5 linked regions of the Homo sapiens genome follow. Changing the gene in region 1 together with any one later gene gives a genetic interaction. Each region holds a gene or a part of one and is shown on either strand. Other genes may lie near its edges.

Evidence for each region.
Region 2: changes in MAN1B1 (region 1) and EZH2 together harm fitness more than expected from each alone (negative genetic interaction), as found in Homo sapiens cells (one large-scale study listed by BioGRID).
Region 3: changes in MAN1B1 (region 1) and SEC23B together harm fitness less than expected from each alone (positive genetic interaction), as found in Homo sapiens cells (one large-scale study listed by BioGRID).
Region 4: changes in MAN1B1 (region 1) and IGF2BP1 together harm fitness less than expected from each alone (positive genetic interaction), as found in Homo sapiens cells (one large-scale study listed by BioGRID).
Region 5: changes in MAN1B1 (region 1) and RAB2A together harm fitness more than expected from each alone (negative genetic interaction), as found in Homo sapiens cells (one large-scale study listed by BioGRID).

The regions. Positions count from the first base shown.
Region 1 is NC_000009.12:137,096,965-137,100,488, reverse strand, and holds part of MAN1B1 (endoplasmic reticulum mannosyl-oligosaccharide 1,2-alpha-mannosidase), read right to left. Parts: intron 2,662-3,524; coding exon 2,552-2,661; intron 794-2,551; coding exon 608-793; intron 1-607. UniProt on the Homo sapiens protein: Involved in glycoprotein quality control targeting of misfolded glycoproteins for degradation.
Region 2 is NC_000007.14:148,828,792-148,832,315, forward strand, and holds part of EZH2 (histone-lysine N-methyltransferase EZH2), read right to left. Parts: intron 1,058-3,524; coding exon 937-1,057; intron 90-936; coding exon 1-89. UniProt on the Homo sapiens protein: Polycomb group (PcG) protein. Catalytic subunit of the PRC2/EED-EZH2 complex, which methylates 'Lys-9' (H3K9me) and 'Lys-27' (H3K27me) of histone H3, leading to transcriptional repression of the affected target gene.
Region 3 is NC_000020.11:18,524,940-18,528,463, reverse strand, and holds part of SEC23B (protein transport protein Sec23B), read right to left. Parts: coding exon 3,444-3,524; intron 2,677-3,443; coding exon 2,532-2,676; intron 2,092-2,531; coding exon 1,933-2,091; intron 969-1,932; coding exon 853-968; intron 1-852. UniProt on the Homo sapiens protein: Component of the coat protein complex II (COPII) which promotes the formation of transport vesicles from the endoplasmic reticulum (ER).
Region 4 is NC_000017.11:49,042,385-49,045,884, forward strand, and holds part of IGF2BP1 (insulin-like growth factor 2 mRNA-binding protein 1), read left to right. Parts: intron 1-1,043; coding exon 1,044-1,166; intron 1,167-1,582; coding exon 1,583-1,702; intron 1,703-2,606; coding exon 2,607-2,681; intron 2,682-3,500. UniProt on the Homo sapiens protein: RNA-binding factor that recruits target transcripts to cytoplasmic protein-RNA complexes (mRNPs). This transcript 'caging' into mRNPs allows mRNA transport and transient storage.
Region 5 is NC_000008.11:60,586,464-60,589,987, reverse strand, and holds part of RAB2A (ras-related protein Rab-2A), read right to left. Parts: intron 1-3,524.

The sequences.
Region 1 (3,524 bases):
TTCCCCTGCAGGGCTTCAATATCACCTCCTATCTCAAGGGGGTAAATCTTGAAGTCGTCAACATTTGTTAATAAAACGGAGTCAGCAGTGCAGTTGCTATGGCCACCAATGGGTCACAACCAAAGGCTACGACCCAAAAAAATTACACACGTCGTTTACTGGTGGTCTTCAACCTATTCAAAAAATTAGGCAAATGTTTAAATTATCGCTTAAATAACCGAAGACACATACTCCCAATTCAAAGTGGATGTGCTGGTCTATGAAGGATGCTGCTGAGATCTGGGACCAGCGGGGCCCCACAGTCACTCATCCCACCACCCCCAGCTGCAAGAGAAGCACAGCCTGGGAATGTCCCTTGGACGTCCCCCAAAGAGTCCACACTCAACTCCTGCAGAGGTCTGGGGACAGCGGCCCTGTGTGTGCCTTGGGTGGCTGGACAAGAACAGGAACTGACCACAGCCAACACGTCCACTCCCGCACCCAGGAGAAGGGAAAACCCATGGTCAGATGCAAACAGCAGCTTTCACCCCGTGTGCAACCCACACTCTGCCTCAGCACACGAGGCCCACACGGAGGGCTCAGCCCCTCCCCAGAAAGCACCAGGTACCTTTCCTCAGACCCAAGATCCACATGGTGTCCAGCGCGTCGATCAGTGTGAGACCGAGGCCAAACCACTCACTGAAGGACCTGGACACAGGCTTCAGCTCGTCATGGCCCCATGCAAACTTGCGGTATCCTTTCCATGCATGCAGGAAGACGTCAATCACGCCCTTCTGGCGATAGTTCAGATGCACTAGTAGGGGGGAGAGAGCACAGGCCATGGCGGACGTGGTCCTGGCGTCGGCACAGATGGACACCCTCAGGCAGAGCACTGCTGTGACCCCCATGGGGCAAAGATGACGGTGGGTTTGGGACGACGGGAAGGGCGGTGGTGGGCACAGCAAAGGCCAGGGCCACAGAGGCTGCAGCAGCCCCCAGGGAGAACACAGCCTGCCAAGGGCCTGAGACCTCTGGAGACTGCACAGGATGGCACCTGTCACCCGACCACCTGACTGGGGCCCATGCACCTCCACCTGGCGCCTGGGCAGGCACACCCTCCTTGGGCCTCGGTGGCCTCTGGCCAAAGGGACAAGGGTGGCTGCCCCAAGGGCGCTGGGACAGCACAGTGAGCACAGCCTGTGGAGACGTGGGTGAGTGTGGTGCCAACTCAGAATGTGAAACACGGACGGGTGCAGACCTCGCGATGAACATCCTCGACTCAAACACGCTCCTTCTGCCACGTGGGCTTCAGGTGCTCCACGGGAATCGCACTGTGCACACGCGCTACAGTCCCTTCGTTCCCTTTTTTTAAATTTTTTTGGCTGGGCACGGTGGCTCCCGCCTGTAATCCCAGTACTCTGGGAGGCCGAGGTGGGCAGATCACCTGAGGTCAGAAGTTTGAGACCAGCCTCGCCAACATCGCGAAACCCCGTCTCTACTAAAAATACAAAAATTAGCCAGGTGTGGTGGCGGGTGCCTATAATCCCAGCTACTAGGGAGGCTGAGGCAGGAGACTTGCTTGAACCCAGAAGGCAGACGTTGCAGTGAAGTGACAAAGCAAGACTCTGTCTCAAATATACACATATATATAAATTTCTTTTTTTTTTGTAGAGATGGGGCCTCACTGTGTTGTCCAGGCTGGTCTTGAACTCCTGGACTCAAGAGATCCTTCTACCTCAGCCTCCCAAAGTGCTGGGATTACAAGTGTGAGCCACCACGCCCGGCCAACATTGACTAATGTGTGGATTGACACGTGTGTAACGGCACCAAACCACACGTCCTCTCAGGAAAGGTTCTGAGGCCTCCTTGTGCTCATGGCATGTCTATGCCTCTGCCTCTGCCTCTGCCCTCATTGATGCCGCAGAGATTGCTACACATCCCTCACAGGCCCGGGGCTGGGAGTCCTGGCTCTGGGCTCCCTCCCCACCTCAGAGACACCTGGGGGGCATGATGAGAGCAGGGCTCCAGACTCAGCGACCTGCCATGAGCCCCCACAGACAAGCAAACGACTCTGGGGGTGGCTGTCCTCAGCCCTGCTTTTCAGTCTGGAGAACGGGAGGGTGAGTGGCTTATCGTGTCAGAGGGTGTCATGAGGTTGAAAGAGGCCTCAGGTCATGCACTGAGCTTGGCCGAAGGCCCGCACCTGGGAGGCCCCCAACAAACGGTGCTGAGAATGAAGTGGCCCCCAGAGCTGCCTGGGACTGGCCAGGCCGAGACAGGGGACACAGCACGGGCAGCAGTCTCCAGGGATCCCGTGGGGCAGCCTGGCCCAGACACAAACCTCTCAGACACACCTTCTTCTGCAGCCATGTGCTCAGGGACAGCAGGCCAAGAGCCACATGGTGTCACCAAGGTTGCAGAGCCTGTGAGGACTCAGACAACAGGGGGATGCTGAAGGGCAAGGTGCACACCAGGGCGGGGGCGCCACCCACCATGGCTGAGACGAAGCCTGCACCCATCAGCCACCAGCCCCTGAGCGCCCGGGGAGGAAGGGGTGCAGGTGTGGCCTCACCTGGTGTGCCCTGTGTCCTGGCCGGTGGCAGGGGAGGCTTGGTGGGCACTTCTGCTCTTCTTGAAGGGAGCTCGGTGCCCTGCTCAGGCTCGATCACCGCTCCCCTCCAGCTTCGGGGGAGAAGGAAGGGTGTCAGCTGCCGTCAAACATTTGTGGCTCCATGTTTCCCACCCCCACGCTCCATACCCACGGCCAAGGCACAGCCCTGCACCCAAAGCGGCCCCATCATCCTGAGGTGCAGGCTGCTGAGTGGCAGGAAACACACAGTTCAGTCCTGAGCTCCCGTGCCTGAGAGCCAAGACCACAGCACTGCTCCAGGGTCAAGGCTGGCCTGAGGTCAGAGACCAGAGCTTGGAGAATCGTGAGAAATCCCTCTGCAGAGGCCGGAGGCGGGGGGCCTCTATGGTGGAGGAGTAGAGAATCTTTCATCCAAACAGGAGCACTAGTGACAGTGAGGTGGCCCCAAGATGCCAGGATGGCCACACAGACGGGGGCTGTCCCTACACACGAGACGCATGGCCACTCAAACTCCCCATCGAGTTCTGTCCAATGGCCATCAGGAACAGCTATGAGGTTGTGTAGAGGGTTTGCCGCGCAACCTCCTAACTGTGGCTGGGCCCGAGCGTTCTCTTGGGGCCCTGTGGTGAATCTGTCCCAGGATCAGCAAAAGGCCTCTTACAACCACAGATGGCTTACATGCTGGGAGTACAAACGTGGCACTTTTGACAAGCTGAGGTCAAATCCTCTTTTGCTCTGGAAGTAAAGCGTCCTTGCATTCATGCCAACGCTAACTAGAGCACAGTGGCCCTCAAATTCTCCTCCTGGCCGTGAGGACCCCTCACATGCACATGTCCACGCCTCTCACCACGCGCTTGAGTTCAGGGCCTCTGGGCCCGTTTCTTCGGAGCCCATCTCTCACGGCGGACAGCGCTTGTCTCAGGCCACTCCTGCACAGCAGCCCTCACTGGCCCTG
Region 2 (3,524 bases), on another chromosome or scaffold:
GTCTCCATCATCATCATCGTCATCATCATTATATTGACCAAGGGCATTCACCAACTCCACAAAAATTTCATCATTTATAAACCCACATTCTGAAACGCATCAAATGTCAGAAACACACAGGAGAAGCAATAATGTCAAAAGTTTATGTATCCTTTTTCTACTTGGACAAAACAGGCATAGCCTAGTAACTGGCACTAAAACATTATTATTGAAATGAGGGGAGGAAAAGATAAGATCATTTTCAGGACTGGTGTTAGGCAAAGGAAGCAAACTTATCTTTAATACCTGCTACTTTCTGTAGAATGGCCCCTCCCCAAAACTTTCTAGTAGAAAACTGAATCTTCTAGGAACTGATTGTGGCTTTGGCCTCCTCCCAAACAATGGATCTGTCCTTTAACTGATCATTTCAGACCCTGCTTTCTGCTGATAATGACAATGGATGATGATATTACAAATATTATCCTTTCAGACACTTTAACAGGGCCTCCTGGACACAAAAAACTGAAACCATGACTCTAAGGATTGAATTTCAGGTACTGTAGTCCCTAGAGGAGCGGTATTTTTTAGTAGTAGGGGCTGTTGGAGCCCCTATATGCCACAGAAGCAGAGCCCCAATCCTAATTAATTTTACTACTAAAGAATCTTAAAATCTACATACACTCAAGTTCTATTTAATTTACATGTTATTGCCATTATGTTATAACCAACTATGCATAATTATCAGGTGGCAAACATGATCCTCCTAACTAATTTTCCCAAAAATAGTTAGGGAAAATACTGAAAATCTTAGGCCTGGGCCCAGGTTCAGTCCCTTATAGTTCAGTGCAAAACTTAATTTTAATATTAAAATTTTTCTCATGCCCTATATGCTTCATAAACAAAAGTGTCTCTCAATTCTTTAGCCCCTTTTTCCAAGAGAAGAAGCATATGGCTCACCTCTATCCCCGTGTACTTTCCCATCATAATTTTTTATTAGTTCTTCAATGAAAGTACCATCCTGATCTAAAACTTCATCTCCCATATAAGGAATGTTATGTAAAACAGTTTCATCTTCCACCTAAAAGAAAAAAATATATTTAAAAAGCAGGTTTACTCTAAGTATCAAATGTGAAATAACTAAAATACAACCTTTTTTTCATGTGTACATGTCTTTACCCAGTTCTCCAGATTTAAAATACTAGTCAGAGAGCAAACTCTAAAATTTATCAAAAAATAAAAGACCCCTCTCACCAATAAGCATATCTGAGAAAACTGTTGACAGAAAAAAAATTTAATTCTAGAAAAAATAATGCACTTAGTCTGTCATCAATCATTAAAACTTACCACCATTATTGTACATACCTCTAAGAAAGAAAAAGATGCTCTAGATTATGAGAAGACATCGTCTGTTTTTCTGTTTTTGTTTTTTAATTGAGACGAGTGTCTCACTATGCTGCCCAGGCTGGTCTCGAACTCCTGAGCTCAAGTGATCCACCCGCCTTGGCTCCCAAAGTGCTGGGATAACAGGTGTCTGACACCATGAGCCACCATGCCCAGCCATCATCAGTTTTAACGCGCACTTTAGATGTTAATAGAGGATGATGAAATATGGTGTATCAAGATCAACTATAAAGACCCATACCAAAAAACTACCCTAAGACTCCCAAACTCCACTTGATGATCCAGTTATTAAAACAGCCATTAACTTGTAATAGTTTAAGGTAAAATGAAAAAAAAATGTAAGACATCCAATATAATAAAATTCTAGGGATACAGAGTATTGATAGTCCATTAAAGTTTATGCCAAAAGGATATGTACTTATATGTAAAATAAGAACATTCTACAAAAACATAAAATATTTCAATATTTAGATGAATGAGATGAATATCAAAGTTGACAGTGCTAGTAAAGATGATAGATGAGTTTTTATCAAGCTTTGGAAGACAACAGAGAAGAAAGAAGAATAGCCAATCAAACAAAAGTTAAGACAGAATAGAATAGTTAAGCATACAAGGTAAAGAAAGTTGACATTCATAGGAGGAAGAGCATTTTCAATGAAGAATAAAAATGACAGCAGTTATAGATAAAGACTGGACAGTTCTGAAGTACATGTTTAAAGAGACTAATTCCAAGTGAAGACAAGTCTAAGTCTTAAGAGGCCTTTGAAAAGAGTATTGGTTGAAAACAGAATTTTAGAAAGATAATTATAATAAGCAGAATGGACTGGCTATGCCTGACTGGGAGGACACAGAAGCTCTTTAAAGGGTGAGATGGCGTAGGCTCGGCCCAGCACTATGATCATGGCCCACAGGTAAGAACACGCTGGGAAAGGCCACACACAGGACTAGTAGCAGCCAGGGAATGTGGAAAAAATCTCAAATAATCCCTAGGTAACAAATTTAGGACAACTGGAGAGTTCATAAAGATAACAAGTACCGTAGACAGACAAGGAAAAGAAAAAGTGGGATAAAAGGAGCATATAATTAAAATGCAGGTTTTAATGTATTCATATATTCAAATTCAAGCTTATGTACACACTAGAGGCCTGTTTTCATCTCATTTCACTTGCACTAATCTCATTTAAACTAGGGGTTGATTTCTTTCTATCTAAGCCAAAATCAAGTGACACTTAGATATTTTGTCTTTTCAATCATATCCACATCATCCTGCTCTCCAAAACGTATCTTAGTTACAATAAAGATTGTGTGCCTAATCTGCTTTGGTCAGCAAAATCAGACAGGGTCTGGCTCTGTCACCCAGGCTAGACCAGCAAAATCCATGGGTGATTCATAAATTAATGACAAATTTAAATAATATATTCTTCCAGAATTTCAGTCTGTGAAAACATGAAACTTCCCTCAAGGTCATGCAATGTAATTCTCAAACTACACTCAAATTTATACAACTACAGAAGAGTAACTGAAGTTGAGACTCTACTGTACAAAGTATAAAAGTTACTAAAAACTTCCCCAAAGCAGGTTCACCAAGGACTTCTATCAACATTTTATTAGCCTTCCCACTTTATATATCAATTAAGTAATACAACTATATATTTTTTATTTAGCAATACAAGTCAAGAACACATGCTTCAGTTTCTCTTTAGCATTTTATTACAAAAGCTGCTGCGTCAGAGTTAGCAATGGAACTATGTTTCAGCTCATGTTTCACAAGCCCTATGAATTTTACACCATAATGTACATTATCACAATAAAATGCTACCTAAAGTTGTTTTAAATAATAAGTTCTCAATTAACAAAAACTCAAAGTCAGACTTAGATTACAGGACACTGACTTTTTTAAGGATAAGAACTATAAGCTTCATTCCTTTTGTTTTTTTCAGACAGGGTCTGGCTGTCACCCAAGCTAGAGTACAATGGCACAATCTCAGCTCACTACAACCTCCGCCTCCCTCAAGCCATCCTTCCACCTCAGCCTCCTGAGTAGCTTGGGACTACAGACATGCGCCACACCCAGCTAACTTTTGTTTTGAGGACACAGCGTTTTGCCATATTGCCCAGGTGGATCTCCAATTCCCAGACTCAAG
Region 3 (3,524 bases), on another chromosome or scaffold:
TCAGGTCTAGAGTGAGGCTCAAGATGCTGCATGGTTCTCAAACTCGGCTCTATGTTAGAATCACGGGAGAAACTTTTAAAATGCTGATGCCCAGGCTGCACCTCATGCTAATTAAATTAGAATCTCTGAGGACAAGACCTAAAGAAAGTGTAGCTTTTAAAGTTCCCCTGGTGATAACAATACGTAGGCAGCTGCAGACCAGTGCTCATCAGTGGTTCCTACACTTTCATGTGCCCTAGAATCTCCTAGAGAGCTGCATTCCCGGGGTTTCCGATTCAGGAGGTCTGGGTAAGGCCTAGAAATATACAATTCCAATCAGTTCCCAGGAGCCCCTAAGGCTGCAAATCTGGACACCACCACATGTTGAGAACCACTGCTCCACACTCTGGCCTGTGAATACAATACTGACTCAGGCTTTGAGTCAGTACAACCTCTAGGCTGAGTGCACTTGGAGTTAGTCACAAAGTATGGCCACTTAGCCAGGTTTATCCTAGTTGTTTCAGCATTCAGACCCTGTTTTCCCCAATTCTCAAAAGGAAGTGCCCTGATGAAGGCCAGATAGTCCATGCTGCTTGCTTTCTTGGCCTGGTCTCTGTAAAAGTGTTAACAACTCTAAGGAAGAAATAAGTTACTCTGAAACGACTTATTTGTAGTGAACTCTTGAGCCCTCCTACTAATCACTACTTCCCTCTCCAAGGAGCCCACAGGCCCTCCCCAGTCACTGAAACCATAGCCCAGAGCTACCTGAAAGCTTCTCTGAGTTGGCCTTGCCCATTCCTATGGCTCCATCACTAATTTCTCTTTCCTTAAAATAACACTGTCACTCTGCCCAGGTTTTCACTGTCAACATACCCAGTAAGATTTGCACAACACTTCATCTCCAAAAGTCCAGTTTGATCAAGGGCACAAGCATAAATATCAATGCAGTGACCATTTGCAGCTGTTCGATTAGCAAGCATCTCATAGTGCTGTGAAGAGAGGAAAGCTATCTTTAGGAAACAGTGACATTATTCCCAAGGTATGCCTGAATTACCGAAGGAGGTAATCAAATATAAAAACATGTAAATCATTTTCTTTTCTCTTTTTGTGACAGAGTCTCTCTCTGTTGCCCAGGCTAGAGTGCAGTGGTGCGATCTCCACCTCCCGGGTTCAAGTGATCATCCTGCCTCAGCCTCCCAAGTAGCTGGGATTAAAAGCGTGCGCCACCATCCCCAGCAAATTTTTGTATTTTTATTTTTATTTACTTTTTGAGACAGTCTCACTCCGTCACCCAGGCTGGAGTGCAGTGGCACGATCTCAGCTCACTGCAACCTCTGCCTCCCAGGTTCAACGGATTCTCGTGCCTCAGCCTCCCGAGTAGCTGAAATTACAGGCACATGCCACCATGCCCAGCTAATTTTTGTATTTTTAGTACAGACAGGCGTTTCGCCATGTTGGCAAGACTCGTCTCGAACTCCTGACCTCAAGTGATCCGCCCACCTTGGCATCCCAAAGTGCTGGGACTACAGGCGTGAGTCACCACTCCTGGCTTAAATTTTGTATTTTTAGTAGAGATATGGTTTCACCACGTTGGCTAGGCTGGTCTTGAACTCCTGACCTGAAGTGATCTGCCAGCCTCGGCCTCCCAAAGCGCTGGGATTACAGCCGTGAGCCACCGGGACTGGCCTGGAAATCATTTTCAAAAATATCTGAATAAAATAAAAATATAGTTTTCATTCTCAAAACCCTTTGAGTAGTTTTAAGGCCACCCACTCTAATTAAGGTCTGAAAGTAGGAGCAATAATTTAACAGCAGCTAAGATTGGAAAACTGTCTCTGAAACAGCGTCTTGCTGACCATGACACATGACCTTGGCAAAGTAGCTGTCACTCCAGAGCAGCCCAAACCTGACAATGGGCTTTCAGAATTACAGCCCATACCCAAGAGCACCTACCTTGGTTGCCTTTTTCATGAATCGTGCATTATCTTTCTCAATATCATGCCAAGAACGAATAGGAATCTTTAATTCATCTCCAACCACCATGCCAGGCCCTTGGGTAGGGGGACCTCCAGTAAACAGCATGATCCTGGCTCCTGTGTTTGGAAAAGTGCCCTAAAATAGCGAATGGCAGCATGTTAGAAGTATACAGCCTCACCTTTTAGTATGGTTTCAGTTTCCCAATAGAAATACTCCAAAGATGCATTCTCTCCAGCTGTCCTAAAAAGTGGTGATAATGCAGAATAATACAGATGATAATGCAGAAAAGCAGCACTTGTCTTCTTCCAACCTTATGGGTTTGCACAGTTTTATTAATTCGCTGTTTGAGTGCTCCCTATTGCTCTAATTCTTAGTTTTTCAATGAAAACTTTTGGCATTTTCAAAATGTTGAGGGGCTCCCTCAACGTGAATGATAATGATGCCTCAAATGCTTTCTGATACATTAACACAGACGGTTGACTTAGATCACAAGTGATTTTCAAACAAAGCCAACAAATATATTTTCTGAGAGCACATTTGTATGATTTGAGAGGTCCTGGTAAATTTTAAATTACCTCCAGCAAGCCAACAGCAATGGACAAAGCCACACCAGTGGATCGCAAAGGTCTCTTCCCCTGAGTTACTGGCCATGGGTCCCTCTGTAGCTCCCCAAGAAGATCAGTGAGGTTCATATCAATCTTGTGAACAGGCTGCAGAAATCTGCAAGATTTTAACAGACACATCAACCCAGATTGAATAAAGTACTCTGGTCTTCAACACTAGGTGCCACATAATTACTGCTCTTCAAGATAATTATTCAGAGTAGTAACTGACTGGTAATTTTTTTCTTCAAAGCTATCTCTCTACTAACACAAAACAATTTAAAGCAGTTTTATTGAGGAATATAAAGCCCAGTACTTAGCAATTTACTTATGTTGCACGGAAAAAAAAATTGTCTGGAAAAGGAGCAATTCAGTTTAATTAATTTTTAGACAGCAAAAAAATCCTAAGGACATGCCTAACATGAGTTCAGTCTATGTGAGGTCCATTTATGTGGACAATCTTCATCATTCCTCATCATTCTAATCTGTGCTTCTCTTAAGCCTTGAAAGTAAGAGGTTGTCTTCAGCATGTCGGGCAATGCATTTTATCGAGCTTGTTAGCTCAGTCTAGGCACTCAATGGGCTGAGTCAAGTGAATACCCGGTCATAAGTATGTTTGAGGACACATGAAAGAAGTCTTTTCAGTTTTTCCAGTTTTACTTAAGCATCAAAAAGGACATCAGATGTGGAATGTCTAAAAACAGCAATTGAGCACAGTGGTCTCCAAACCTTTTTGACAAAACACTGAATATTGATTAGGCTTAATCATTTATCTTTTTCTCTAATAATAAGAAAATACAAATTCTAATATTTTTCTTCCCTTACTCCCATGGATCATCTGCATGTCCATCACAATACGTGTAACACTCCATGTTGGGCTCTCACCTGCTTGAAGCAAAAGGGTGCTCCTGTGGTTGTGCAGGTCGTGCTTGCTGCATGGGCATGGCTGGCTTGGTCAGGCCCAAC
Region 4 (3,500 bases), on another chromosome or scaffold:
CTGGGTAGTACCCTCTGCTTATCCTTTCCTGAGTCTTAGCAACAGCAGCTTGTGGGGTGCAGGGTGATGGACATGTGCCCTGTGCCGTGTGGCCTTGGAGCTTTAGTTGATGCTTTTGGACTTCGACTATCAGAAATAGTATTTAAATAGTATTTAATTAGCAAGGATTCTTCACCTGGTTCCTAGAGTAGGGGTCCAATCTTGGGCTTTGAGTCCTGTGATTCCAAGTATGTGTACAATTTGTGTTTGTGTGCACTTTATTGAAATGAGGGGGTCCATCGTTTTCATCTGATTTTTATTTTATTTTTTTGAGACAGGGTCTTGGTATGTTGCCCAGGTTGGAGCACAATGGCGCAATCATAGCTTACTGCAGCCTTGACCCCCTGGGCTCAAGGAATACTCCTGCTTCAGCCTCCCAAGTACCTAGGAGACTACAGGTGTACACCACCATGCCCAGCTAATTTTTTAAAATTTTATTTTTTGGAAACAGGGTCTTGCTGTGTCACCCAGGTTGGTCTAGAACTCCTGGGCTCAAGCGATTCTCCTACCTTGGCCTCCCAAAGTACTAGGATTATAAGCATGAGCCACTGCACACAACTCATCTGATTTTTAAAGGAGACTTGGGGTTGGGGTACAGGACCAAAAATGTTTAGAATCAGAGTCCTAGAAGTCCAATGGAGCTCTGTCTCCACGCCTTTTTCTCATATAGGGGGTTATAGTATAGTGTCATGGGTCTATCGTCTGTCTCCAGCAGTCTGAACAGCCAGAGAGGAAGGACTCCTGAGGGTGTACAACTGTTTGGCATTTCTGGTTGCAATTGCTAGCCGTTAGTCCAGTGAGAACATCATATCACTTAAAATTCCACACCCGAAGTGTGTAGGTGAGAGTGTATGAAAAGCACAGAATAGGCTTTTGTGGAAAAGTATGTAATTCATGTTTTTGGCCCACTTGCCTCTGGGGCTACTCGCCTTTTATACAGCGGGGGTCACACACAAGCCCCTGTCAGGGTGTGCTGACTCTTCCTCCTCATCTTTCTTCCCCAGCTGCAGTCTCACCTGATCCCTGGCCTGAACCTGGCTGCTGTAGGTCTTTTCCCAGCTTCATCCAGCGCAGTCCCGCCGCCTCCCAGCAGCGTTACTGGGGCTGCTCCCTATAGCTCCTTTATGGTAGGTGGAAGATCTTATTACACGGGATCCCTGGGCCCATATGTGGCCTCCCTTAAGGGGGACTCAGCATGCTCTGGGAGTTGGATGCTTGGCAAGTTTGCAGGGAGAGGGAAGGAAGGTCTCAGAGGCATCCCTCCTCTCCAGTGCTCCTAGCCACTGGCTCTGAGGCTCCCAAATGTCTGCCTAGAATGCTCCCGGGGCATAGACAGCACTGTTCCCTTACTCTCTCCTGGCCTCTTCCCTTTAGCCCTACTGGGCATAGGAAGAGCTAAAGAGCTCACAGCATCCCTTGGCAGCCCAGGGTGGCGGTTTGGTGCCTGTACTCCTTCCTCCTTGAGGATGCAAGGCAGGGGAGTGGAGGGTTTCTGGGCCATGCTACTTGGGCCCCCTGGTAACAACGCCTCCTATCCTGGCAGCAGGCTCCCGAGCAGGAGATGGTGCAGGTGTTTATCCCCGCCCAGGCAGTGGGCGCCATCATCGGCAAGAAGGGGCAGCACATCAAACAGCTCTCCCGGTTTGCCAGCGCCTCCATCAAGGTGATCTGCTCTGTGGGTCTTCCTGTTTCTGGAAAGGGAGGGGTCTCTGCTTTTATCACTCTGCACTTTCTCCCATATTCCCCCTACTCATTTGAGAATTCTGTGTGTCATATGAGGGACCTTTCCCCCATGGAATCGAAGTCCTCTTTGTTTTTGATCTTGCTTGGTCCCCATGGGATGGCTTCAGTGCTTCTGGGTTTTCAGGCTGGGCAGGGGCAGGGTTATAACATAGAAAGAGAACTTAGGTTCTAACACAAACTGATGGGTTCAAATCCAAGATCCATCTCATCACCCCTTCCCCCAATACACTATATGATCTGAGCCTCACTTTCCTCGTCAGTACAATATTATGAGGCTACGCAGCCAAAGCCCTTCGCTCACATACTAACACCAAGTAAGTGTTAGTTGTCTGTCACCTTCCCTGGCCAAGGTCCAGGGGAGAGAGAAGGGAGAATCTGTCATAGTGAAACAAGGATGCTGTTAGAGTTTCACAAACCTAAATCCGGTTGCTTTAGTTGTCTTAAAAGCTTTGAGCAAAAACCTTGATTGTTCTCCAGTGGAGGTGCAGTCACTGCCCTCTATCCGTTGGTCATTTCATTTGTGTCCTTGCCTGTTGGCAAGACTCCACTGAAACCTCTCTGGGAGATTGGTAGGTGGAGGGGGCAGGAGGCCCTACTTAGAAAGTGTCATTGAAGCCAATCCTTCTAACTGACCACCTCTGCCCTCCTAATAATTCTGGTGTGAAGGCGTAATGATGTGGGCTTCAGGGTCTTTGTTCTTCCTCCCCTAAGTCTTCAGAATGGGTAGTTGGGAGTAAGGGTGGTAGAAGGGGAACTGGATGAAGTGGACATGGTGGGGGTCTTCCCATAGAGGGTCCCTCATTGACTAGCTTTTTGCTTTTTAGATTGCACCACCCGAAACACCTGACTCCAAAGTTCGTATGGTTATCATCACTGGACCGCCAGAGGCCCAATTCAAGGTTTTGGTCTTTATTGTTTTCCAAGCTGAACATGGAGGAATTGAGGTTGGGTATTTCCCCTGAGGTAGGAAAAAGGCTGGGTCAGTTTCCCGTTAGCTGTCAAGTCCTCATCACATCTTTAAGCCTTCCATGCAGGATAAAGGGCTGCAGAGCTATTTTCAAATTGACATCAAACTGGATTTCTGTTGACTTCGTCTTCCCTTTTTAAGGTCCACAGAAGAAGATGGGAAGGAAAGAAGTCTGAGGGCATCTTATTTGCACTCTGCTGTCATTTCTAAGGAAGGCCTTTAATGCCAAATTCTCATCTTTTATGTCCCCACTAAATCCTAAGGTTCTTGAACTTCTGATCAGACAGCCAAAAAATGAACCATCAACTAGCTTAACCTAACATATGTGAGGATAGAGGACTGGGACAGCTCTCTGGGCCACTGGAGAGTCAGACAGGCCTGCCCTCTGTGTGACTTGATTAGTTGCCATTCAGGGCCTTGAAATGCTGGTCAGTGCCACGTCCAGATTCCATAGGTCTGGTTTGTAGCTTGTGAATTAGATTCCTCTGGGAACTATTTTTTCCCTTGGGAAGTGTTTATTCAATTACTCATAACTCATAATCTCCACCCAGGGTCTCCAGTATGATAGCTAAGCAGAAGGAATGCTGACAAGCTGCCCACCTGAGCCTTGCCCTTCACCTGCCTTAGATGGTTAGCCCGCCTAGGATGGGGAGGGCCTGTGGGCCAGAAAATATGGGCTGGAGCTTCCTTTTTCCCACTTTTCTCTTTTGTCACAGATATATGAACCACTGATTAACAATTACCTCCTCTT
Region 5 (3,524 bases), on another chromosome or scaffold:
TCCATCTTGGGAAGGGAAAAAAAAAAGAAACAATATAAAATATCAGAGTCTATCACCTATATACATAAGTTCCATCTACTGTTTCATGGAACTTACGTATAAAGGTATAATTTACGAATATTTTGTTATATGTGTAGGTGTATACACAATTTATTTACTAGGTCATGATGTAAAATACATTTCTTACTATAGGTCAAATCAAAAAACTCAAAAGCCATAGTACTTGACGATATACTTAGTGCAAAGTTTTAAAAATACCTCAGTTTTCCAGGCATTACATCATATTGTTGTCTTAGTTCACTCCCTCTGAATCCCACTTAAGTTGCTTAGGTTACTTAAGTATCTTTCTTTTAATTTATGGCCCCTTTTTGTTTAGGGTTTGCATTACAACCCTTACACTATTAAAAAACTTTCATTTTTTAAATCTCTGCTTCCTATTTCTTATATAACCAATTTATTAATAAAATGCCATAGTAAGAAAAATTTGTGTCATCTGTTGCTCTGACTAGGTCACTGCCCTTCACTGGCTCCCTACTGCTTAATGCGTCTAATTCAAAAATTGCTTATTCCCTGTTTTGATGTCTATCCACAGTTCAATTCATCTAAAAATAATCATCTCATTTATTTCTCTCTGTTCTTTCTTGTTCGTTATACTCCTGATTTTAAAGGTCACCCACCTACGATCATCAGAAACATCTCGTTTACATACTATGCTTTGTTTATTTCTTCTCACATTTGAACTATCAGCTCCTAGTGGTCGGTGACCAAATTTAAGCCACCAGTAAGCTGTCACTCATCATGTTTCAGCCACAAGGAAAAAATTGGTAAAATAAAAGGATAAAAATTCTCTTTATTTTCCAAGTATTCTCCTCTTATTATTTCATACCTTGAATGACAGAATAACTATTTCCATCATAGAAAGACTAAAACTTCCCTCCAATAGCTTTATAACCTTAAAAAGGTTTAGTGAGATGATTTAAATGTGGAAAAGAATACCCAAGAAAGGCCTTCAGAGAATATGATAATAGTTTCTTCTCTACACAAAGAAGTAAACAATGTTTAGCTTTTTATAATGTAAATATCACTTAGGTAATATTTTCTCTTAATAGCAAATCTCAATTTCTATTAAAACAACACTCTAAAATCTATACAGTATAACGATGTTTTACATTATAGCTTTTTTGAGGTGTAACAGACATAAAAGAAGTTGTACTTAAATGCAAAATTTGTTGAGTTTTAAGATATGTAAGCCCGTGAAGCCATCAGTCTCCCAAAAGTTTCCTCATACTCCATTGTAATCCATCCCTTCTTGCCCCTGCACCCTAGGCAGCTGATGATCTGCTTTCTGCCACTACAGATTAGTACACATTTACTAGGATTTTTATATAAATGTAATCACATGGTATTTTTGGTCTGAGTTTTTTCACTCTGTAATTATTTTGAGAATCATCCATTTTGCTGCATGTATCAATAGTTCATTCCTCTTTATAGCTGAGTTGTAGTCTGTTGTAATGCTGTATCACTATTTTTCGATTCATCTGTTAATTGATATTTGGGTTGTTTCCAGTTTGGGGCTATTAGAAATAAAGCTGGTATGAATATTTGTACATAATTCTGTGGACACATGAAGACATATTTATGTTGGGTAAACATCTGGGAGTAAAGTGGCTAGGAAATATAGATGTGTGCTTTATTTCTTTTTTTTGAGACAGGGTCTTGCTCTGTGGCCTAGGCTGGAATACAGTGGCATGATCATGGCTCACTGCAGCCTTGACCTCTCAGGCTTAAGTGATCCTACCACCTCAGCCTCTGGAGTAGCTGGGACTACAAGTATGTACCACCATGTTCAGCTACTTTTTTAAAAAATTTCTTATTTTTGTATAGAAGAAGTCTCCCTACATTGCCCAGGCTGGTCTCAAACTCCTAGGCTGAAGCAATCCTCCCGCCTCGGCCTTTTAATTTCTAAAGAAACTACCAAATTGTTTTCCAAAGTGATTGTATCATTTTACGTTCCCATCAGTAGTATATCTTCTGTAGTAATTGCTGGTTCAAATCTTTAGATCATTTTTAAAAAGTGGATGTCTTCTTATTAATGAATTATAAGCATTCTTCATATATTCTAGATATAAATCCTTTGTCAGATACATTTTTCACAAATATTTTCTGCTAGTCTGTAGCTTGTCTTTTCATTTTTGTAACCGTTTTTCTTCAAATTTATTTATTTAAATTGATAGGTAAAATTGCATATATTTATCATGTACAACATATTGTTTTAAAGTATATATACACTGTGGAATGGTTAATCTAGCTAATTTGCATTATCTCACAGTTATCGTTTTTTGTGGTGAGAACACTTAACATCCACTCTTTCAGCATTTTTCCAGAATGCACTATATCATCATTAACCATGTCACGATGTTGTATAATAGTGTAACCGTCTTTTGAAGAACAAAAGTTTTAAATTCAGTTAAAGAACAATTTATTGATTTTTTTTCTGAACTATAAGTTCATGCTTTTCTCTGTCCCATTTAAGAAATGTTTGCCAAAACAGGGTCACTACAATTTGTTTTCTTTTAGAAATTTTAAGTAGTTTTAGCTCTCACACTTAGGTCTATGATCCACTTCCAGTTAATTTTTGTAAATGGTATAATGTAACAGTTGAGGTTCATATTTTTACATATGACTATTAACTGTTTCAGCACCATTTGATGAAAAAGATTACCCCTTCTTCAACTAAATTAGCATCTCTGTCAAAAAATTAATATATCATATATATATGAATCTACTTCTGGAACTTCTTATTCGGCTCTACTGATCTATGTCTGCTTATGCCAAACAATAGTAAATTGACTATAGTATAATAAATCTTAAAATTTGTAGAATAGTAAATTCTCTCCAATATTGTGCCTCTTTGTCAAAGTTGATTTGGCTATTCCGTGGCCTTTGCACATAAACTTTAAAGTCAGCTTGTCAATATCTACCCTCCCAAAAAAGTCTGCCAATGTTTGATAGTTTGATTAGGGTTACAATAAATCTTTTTTTTTTTTTTTTTTTCTTGGAGACAGAGTCTTGCTCTTTTGCCCAGGCTGGAGTGCAGGTGGCACAATCATAGCTCACTGCAACCTTGAGCTCCTGGATTCAAGTGATCCTCTCACCTCTGCTTCCTGAGTAAGTAGAGCTAAAGGCGTGTGCCAGCATGCCTAGCTAGTTTTTTTTAATTATTATTTTATTTTTTGTAGAGATAGGGTCTTGCTACATTCTCAGGCTGGTCTTGAACTCCTTGCCTCATGTGATGCTCCTGCCTTGGCCTCCCAAAGTGCTGGGATTACAGATGTGAGCCATTGTACCTGGCCTTCAATGAATTTTTAGATAAATTTGAGAAGACATCTTATATTTAGTTTTACAATCCATGAACATGGTTATATCTCTTCATTTATTTAGTCTGTTTACAATATTCTCTCTCTTTTTTTTATCTATAGTGATGTCAACCTTTCTTTCCTGATATTGCTAATGTTTGTCTTTTT